2 separate regions of the Homo sapiens genome follow, and region 1 is reported to be linked to region 2. The links are microRNA targets in miRTarBase. Many come from high-throughput screens and were not tested one by one. Region 2 holds a microRNA gene; the other region holds the end of a gene's coding sequence.

What was found. Region 2 holds the annotated microRNA hsa-miR-6792-3p (CUCCUCCACAGCCCCUGCUCAU, at 1,327-1,348, shown strand). A microRNA usually pairs through its seed, bases 2 to 8, with sites in the 3' UTR of a target mRNA and lowers its output. Matches are read on the target gene's strand: a 7mer-m8 pairs with bases 2 to 8, a 7mer-A1 pairs with bases 2 to 7 and ends in A, and an 8mer does both.
Region 1: miRTarBase lists SOX17 as a target of hsa-miR-6792-3p. Seed matches in the 3' UTR shown: 7mer-m8 at 270-276.

What each region holds. Positions count from the first base shown.
Region 1 is chr8:54,459,780-54,462,860 of GRCh38, forward strand. SOX17 (SRY-box transcription factor 17) reads left to right here. Exons shown (of 2, transcript NM_022454.4): 2 at 1-1,113. The coding sequence ends at 216. Among named protein-coding and RNA genes, the nearest start is that of SOX17, 3.4 kb to the left of the region's middle.
Region 2 is chr19:7,616,154-7,619,234 of GRCh38, forward strand. It overlaps MIR6792 (microRNA 6792), which reads left to right and starts at 1,286; the gene lies at 1,286-1,352. CAMSAP3 (calmodulin regulated spectrin associated protein family member 3) reads left to right here. Exons shown (of 17, transcript NM_020902.2): 14 at 370-469; 15 at 1,173-1,285; 16 at 1,390-1,508; 17 at 1,599-2,151. The coding sequence ends at 1,904.

The DNA.
Region 1 (3,081 bases), not on the chromosome of region 2:
GACGGCACGGACCCCAGTCAGCCCGCCGAGCTCCTCGGGGAGGTGGACCGCACGGAATTTGAACAGTATCTGCACTTCGTGTGCAAGCCTGAGATGGGCCTCCCCTACCAGGGGCATGACTCCGGTGTGAATCTCCCCGACAGCCACGGGGCCATTTCCTCGGTGGTGTCCGACGCCAGCTCCGCGGTATATTACTGCAACTATCCTGACGTGTGACAGGTCCCTGATCCGCCCCAGCCTGCAGGCCAGAAGCAGTGTTACACACTTCCTGGAGGAGCTAAGGAAATCCTCAGACTCCTGGGTTTTTGTTGTTGCTGTTGTTGTTTTTTAAAAGGTGTGTTGGCATATAATTTATGGTAATTTATTTTGTCTGCCACTTGAACAGTTTGGGGGGGTGAGGTTTCATTTAAAATTTGTTCAGAGATTTGTTTCCCATAGTTGGATTGTCAAAACCCTATTTCCAAGTTCAAGTTAACTAGCTTTGAATGTGTCCCAAAACAGCTTCCTCCATTTCCTGAAAGTTTATTGATCAAAGAAATGTTGTCCTGGGTGTGTTTTTTCAATCTTCTAAAAAATAAAATCTGGAATCCTGCTTTTTTGCTCTACTAGTACCTCTGTCACACTAGTCTTATCAAAAACCAGTTCTTAAGATCAATGTTAAGTTTATTAGTTAATGTAAATTTCTCATCCTCGAAAAGGGTGAACATAAATGCCTTTAAGGAGTATATCTAAAAATAAACATTAGGATATCTAAGTTTGATGTAATTGTTTCAGGAAGGAAAAAAGAAAAGCATTCTGGAATGAGCCTACTTCAAGTAATCTTAGTTTCTAAAACTAACAGTTAATATTTTCAATTCCAGTATATCACTTTAAGTAGAAGGGGATGTCCAAGTAATTTTGGTTTTCTAACTGTTGAATCATAAGCTTGACCTGCCCCCAGAGGCTTTTTGGATGTTTTTATCTGTGTTTTGCCATCTCTTTACACTCCTCGACATTCAGTTTACCTTAATCTTCACATTTTTACACCTTGGGAAGTGGCAAGCATCGCTGGGTTTAAGATAAAGGAGTCACAAAAACTAATCAAAATAAAATTTGCATTATGACAACTTTTAATACACTTTAGCATTTTATTTGATTGGTTTTTTTTTTTTTTGCTTTTAGATTTAATACATATACGGACGATTGCACAGACTTAGGGGAGAATCCATGAATGGTTTGTGTGTAGTGTCCCTATCTATCACCATTACTTTATCAAGAAGAAACAGTTACAGGGTTGTGAGTAAAAGATGGGGATCAGCCCCTGTAATCTGCCATACTAATCGCTGTGGCACGTCTCACCACATTTGAGATTGAGACATAAATGGAAACAGGTGACTTATAATGGGCATTTCCTGTGCCAGATGTTTGTTCAATGCCATTCTAAACAGTGTGAGCCTCAACAAACCTGCAGGTTTAGGTGCTATTTTTCCTATTTTGTAAGAAAAGGAGGCACCAGGCCTTCCCCTGCCATGTATATGAAGGCTTGTATTACAAGTTCTTTTGACATATTTCTCACCTGTTTTCCTCTGGGCCAGTATGTATTCATGGGCACTGGGAGAATTTACATTCTGTTGATGAGAAACCATATAATTATCCTTAGCAGCAAGTGCTATAGAAAAAGGAAAGGCTTGGAGGATAGCTTCCAGCATTTACATGGGAGAGATGTCTGAGCTGAAATGATTGGCTGGATTCTCTTGAAAAAGGGCATGGAATATGTTTTTTAGAAGGGATTCCTGGAATGTGAAGGATAGACAGTTTTAGTGAGGAAAGGTAAGTTTATTCTGTCAGGCATAACAGGCTGCCTTTAAAAAGGTTAAATTCTTTCTCTTAGCTCAGATGGGTTGTTTCTGCTTCCAGCCTGAGCTCCTTCTGCAGGGTGTCCCAAGAGTTCCCAGTAGATAAAGTGGACAGAAGGGCTACCAGCCCAAGTTCAGGGCTGTGCTCAGATTACACTTGGCATTTTCATCATAGTCAGCCCAAGAAGACTCAGTTTTACCCTTGGCTGCCATCTCTTAACGATATTAAGATAAGTACAGAAAAGAAAAAGAAAAAGAGTTCTTAGGGGAAAGATCTAAAGTCCTGTAAATTACATCTTTAACTACTCACTAGGCGCAGGTGGAAAAGCAGTAAGAGCTAAAATTGTTAAGTTAATGTTCATGCATTTACATGGATGGAGGGATTGGTGTTCACAAATAATTTTTTTTGGGTAAGAAGCATCAAGCCAATTCCTTCTCTTTCCTCAAGCACACAGATCAAGTGACTGCAGGTAGCAGCTAGTGATTTTTTTTAATTCCTAATTTTAGTTTTTATGGGTACATAGTAGGGGTATATATTTATGGGGTACATGAGATGTTTTGATACAGATATGCAATGTGTAATAATCACATTATGTAAAATGGGGTATTTATTCCCTGCAGCATTTATCCTTTGTGTTACAATCCAATGATACTCTTAGTTATTTTAAAATGTACAATTAAATTAATATTGGCTATAGTCACTCTGTTGTGCTATCAAATACTAGGTCTTATTCCTTCTATGTTTTTTTTTTTTTGGTAGTTTTAAATTACCAAAACATTTGGTATCCTTAAACCCTTTCTCATTTTAAAGTACAGGGATGTGGGCCCTGGTGGCAAAATTAGAAATAGAGCTTTGGGGTCCATTACAGACCATTATAGTTTTAAAGTGAACGACAGAATGTAAAACTTCTGCCTAGGTCGAACGACTCTATGTCATCACCAAGTGAACAGACCTCCCCCCACCACCAGGTATGACATCGCCAAATGCATAAATCCCCTCTGTGACATTACCAAGTGCCTGGATACCCCCATGACATCACCAAATACGCAGACCTCTGTTTCCTCAAGTAGATTCAGATGAAGTGACCACAGGTACCAGCTAGTGAATTTTTGAGACAAAATATTAAATCTGTCTCAAGTTTTTACTGTTTTATTTTGGAGACAAATACACATAAAGGATACATTGCTTTTCTACCCATGTCTAATTTGGTACTTTAGAATTACATTAGGAGGTAAGAATCCAGCT
Region 2 (3,081 bases):
TCCAGCCTGGGCAACAGAGCGAGACTCCGTCTCAGAAATAAGACAAAAAAAAAAAAAAAAGACTTCCATAGGGATGTGGGGTGCAGTGGGATGAGGGGTCTTTCTTCTGTGGCTTCATGGATAGGAACCTTTGGGAGTATGTTTGGGGTGAGGCGTTGCCAGTAGGGGCTGACCCAGTGCTGCTCCCCACTTGCCTGCTGGGCAAAGCATCCTCCCTCATAGAGGGGTCCCCCCATAGGGGTGCTGCAGAGGGCCGAGGGGTCTTGGGCAGGACTGACTCCTCCTGTGTTCCCCCCACAGCCTGCTGGACCGGGTGTTGTGGAGGGCAGGGGCTTCTGGTGGGCACTGACCTGCAATCTCTGTCCCCAGGCTCTCGGCTGAGCAAAATCTATTCCCAGTCCACCCTGTCACTGTCCACTGTGGCCAACGAGGCCCACAATAACCTCGGGGTGAAGAGGCCCACGTCTCGGTGAGTTTAGCCCGCACAGGCGGGGTTCGTATGCCGGGTGGCTTCCCAGAGCCTGGGAGGTGTGTGGGCATCTGGGTGAACCTAGAGGGCGGTATGGCTCGAGTTTATGGATACGCCATGAAGAGATGGAGGGACGCGTGTGGGCACGTGTGCATGGGGCATAGTCTGTACCTGGCAGACAGGACTCAAGCATGTGCCTCAGTGCACTTGAGTGCCAGGTGTTCCTGTGGGAGGAGGACAGCACGGGGCACTGCATGGACTTGGGAGGGTGTGCAGTGTATACCGCCTCCTCTGCAGTGTGTGTGGCCCGCCTTTTTTTTTTTTTTTTTTTTTTTTGTTTTTTTGAGAGGGAGTCTTGCTGTGTCGCCCAGGCTGGAGTGCAGTGGCGCAATCTTGGCTCACGGCAACCTCCGCCCCCTGGGTGCAAGTGATTCTCGTGCCTCAGCCTCCTGAGTAGCTGGGGTTACCCGTGCCTGTAGAGACGGTGTTTCACCATGTTGGCCAGGCTGGCCTCGAACTCCCGACCTCAAGTGATCTGCCCGCTTTGGCCTCCCGAAGTGCTGGGATTACAGGCATGAGCCACGATGCCCAGCCGTGGCCCTTATTTTCCTTGGCCCCTCTGCACATAGGGAAGCTTCCCATCTCTGACCCCACCTCCATCCCATCCTGACCCCACCTCCATCCCATCCTTCTCCCACTGCAGGGCTCCCTCCCCGTCAGGTCTCATGTCCCCAAGCCGCCTGCCTGGAAGCCGCGAACGGGACTGGGAAAATGGCAGCAATGCCTCCTCCCCAGCGTCAGTGCCCGAGTACACAGGTAAGCAGGGGCTCTGGGTGATGTGAGGAGCAACAGGCACCCTCCTCCACAGCCCCTGCTCATTCCTGCTGCCCCCCACCCCCTCCCACTGCCTCACCCTCTAGGTCCACGGCTGTACAAAGAACCCAGCGCCAAGTCCAACAAGTTCATCATCCACAATGCCCTATCACACTGCTGCCTGGCGGGCAAGGTGAACGAACCGCAGAAGAATCGCATTCTGGAGGTGAGCCCGCCCACACGTGGGAGTTGGGGGCTGGTGGGTGGGTGGGTGGCCTGACTTGGCCAGCTGACCATTTCCAGCACTCCTGCCCAGGAAATTGAGAAAAGCAAGGCCAACCACTTCCTGATCCTCTTTCGCGACTCGAGCTGCCAGTTCCGGGCGCTCTACACGCTGTCGGGGGAGACAGAGGAGCTGTCGCGGCTGGCAGGGTATGGGCCCCGGACCGTCACGCCCGCCATGGTGGAAGGCATCTACAAGTACAACTCGGACCGCAAGCGCTTCACCCAGATCCCCGCCAAGACCATGTCCATGAGCGTCGATGCCTTCACCATCCAGGGACACCTCTGGCAGGGCAAGAAACCCACCACTCCCAAGAAGGGCGGCGGCACCCCCAAATAGCCCCACCCGGGCGGTCCACGGGCCGGGCCCTGTGTGCTGCGGCCGCCATCCCCTGGAGGACAGTCAGTCGGTATTCCTGGGTCCTGTCTGTCCCCAACCGTGTCTGGGTGGGGCTGGAGTCTCCACCCTCTGACTTTGAGTCCAGTCCTGCTGTGGGGGCTGAGCTGGGAGGTTCAGGGACTCAGGGCTCAGCTCAGTCCCCTTGTCTGTCCTCCCCCACTTCTTGAATAAAATAATTTAAAGAGAAGTTGAACCTTGTCCCCCCCTCCGAGGCTGGCCGGGGTCCCACACTCCCTGGCTGTGTTTTTAGTCTCCTGTTCTTTCTCAAACCAACTCCTGTCTTCAACCCCCATAATCCCCTAATGCAGCTTCAGCCAGGGCACTCCCAGCCCCCAGCCAGGGCTGTTTCGAAGCTGCCTCTGAACTGATCTCTCAGGCTCGAGGTGTCCCACTGGCCCTTCCTGTGGCCTTGGCCACCCCCGCTTGCTGGATTCTCCTGGTCTGTGTGGCTGTTGTTACTGGCCCTAACCAGCGTTTGGCATGGGGCCAACTTCTAACTTGATCTTGTCTCCCCTGGCCAGCCTGGTGTTTCCAGGCCTGGCATCTACCTCTGGGCCAGTGATTCCAGGTTTCTCTGAGATCTGTGTTTGACAATCCAGTTGCCCCCTGCCATTGCCTGGGTGTCTCTCTCAGATGCAAGGCCTGCCCTGCAACCCAGGCTGGCACTGGCTTCCCAGCTGCCGCCCAGTTCTACACAGCTCAGCCCTCCCCTCCTGTCTCACTCGCTTCTCTCCAGCCCTGTCACCTCCCTGCAAAGTCCAAGCCAATGGCCTGGGCCTCCCCATGTCCCCAGCTGCCTCCTGCCCACACAGCAGCCTGTGTGACCCGTTCGAAGCACAAATCTGATTATATCCCTTGATACTTAAAACCCCTTAATAGCCTACAGCCCGCTAATGGCTTCCCAGGCTTAGGACTAAGGACCACGCCCTGGTCCTGGGCCGTGCACAAGGTCTGGCGCCTGGCCCCCGTCCAGGCACAGAAACGCGTTACTAATCAGTTCCCAGAGCTGGGCCAGAGCCTGCCTGACTCCAAGACTTGAGGGCAAGGGCCAGTCCCTAGTGGGGAACAGACAGTGGGTGCCACCCCAGGGAGGCGGCAGCTGCCTGGGGCCACAGAA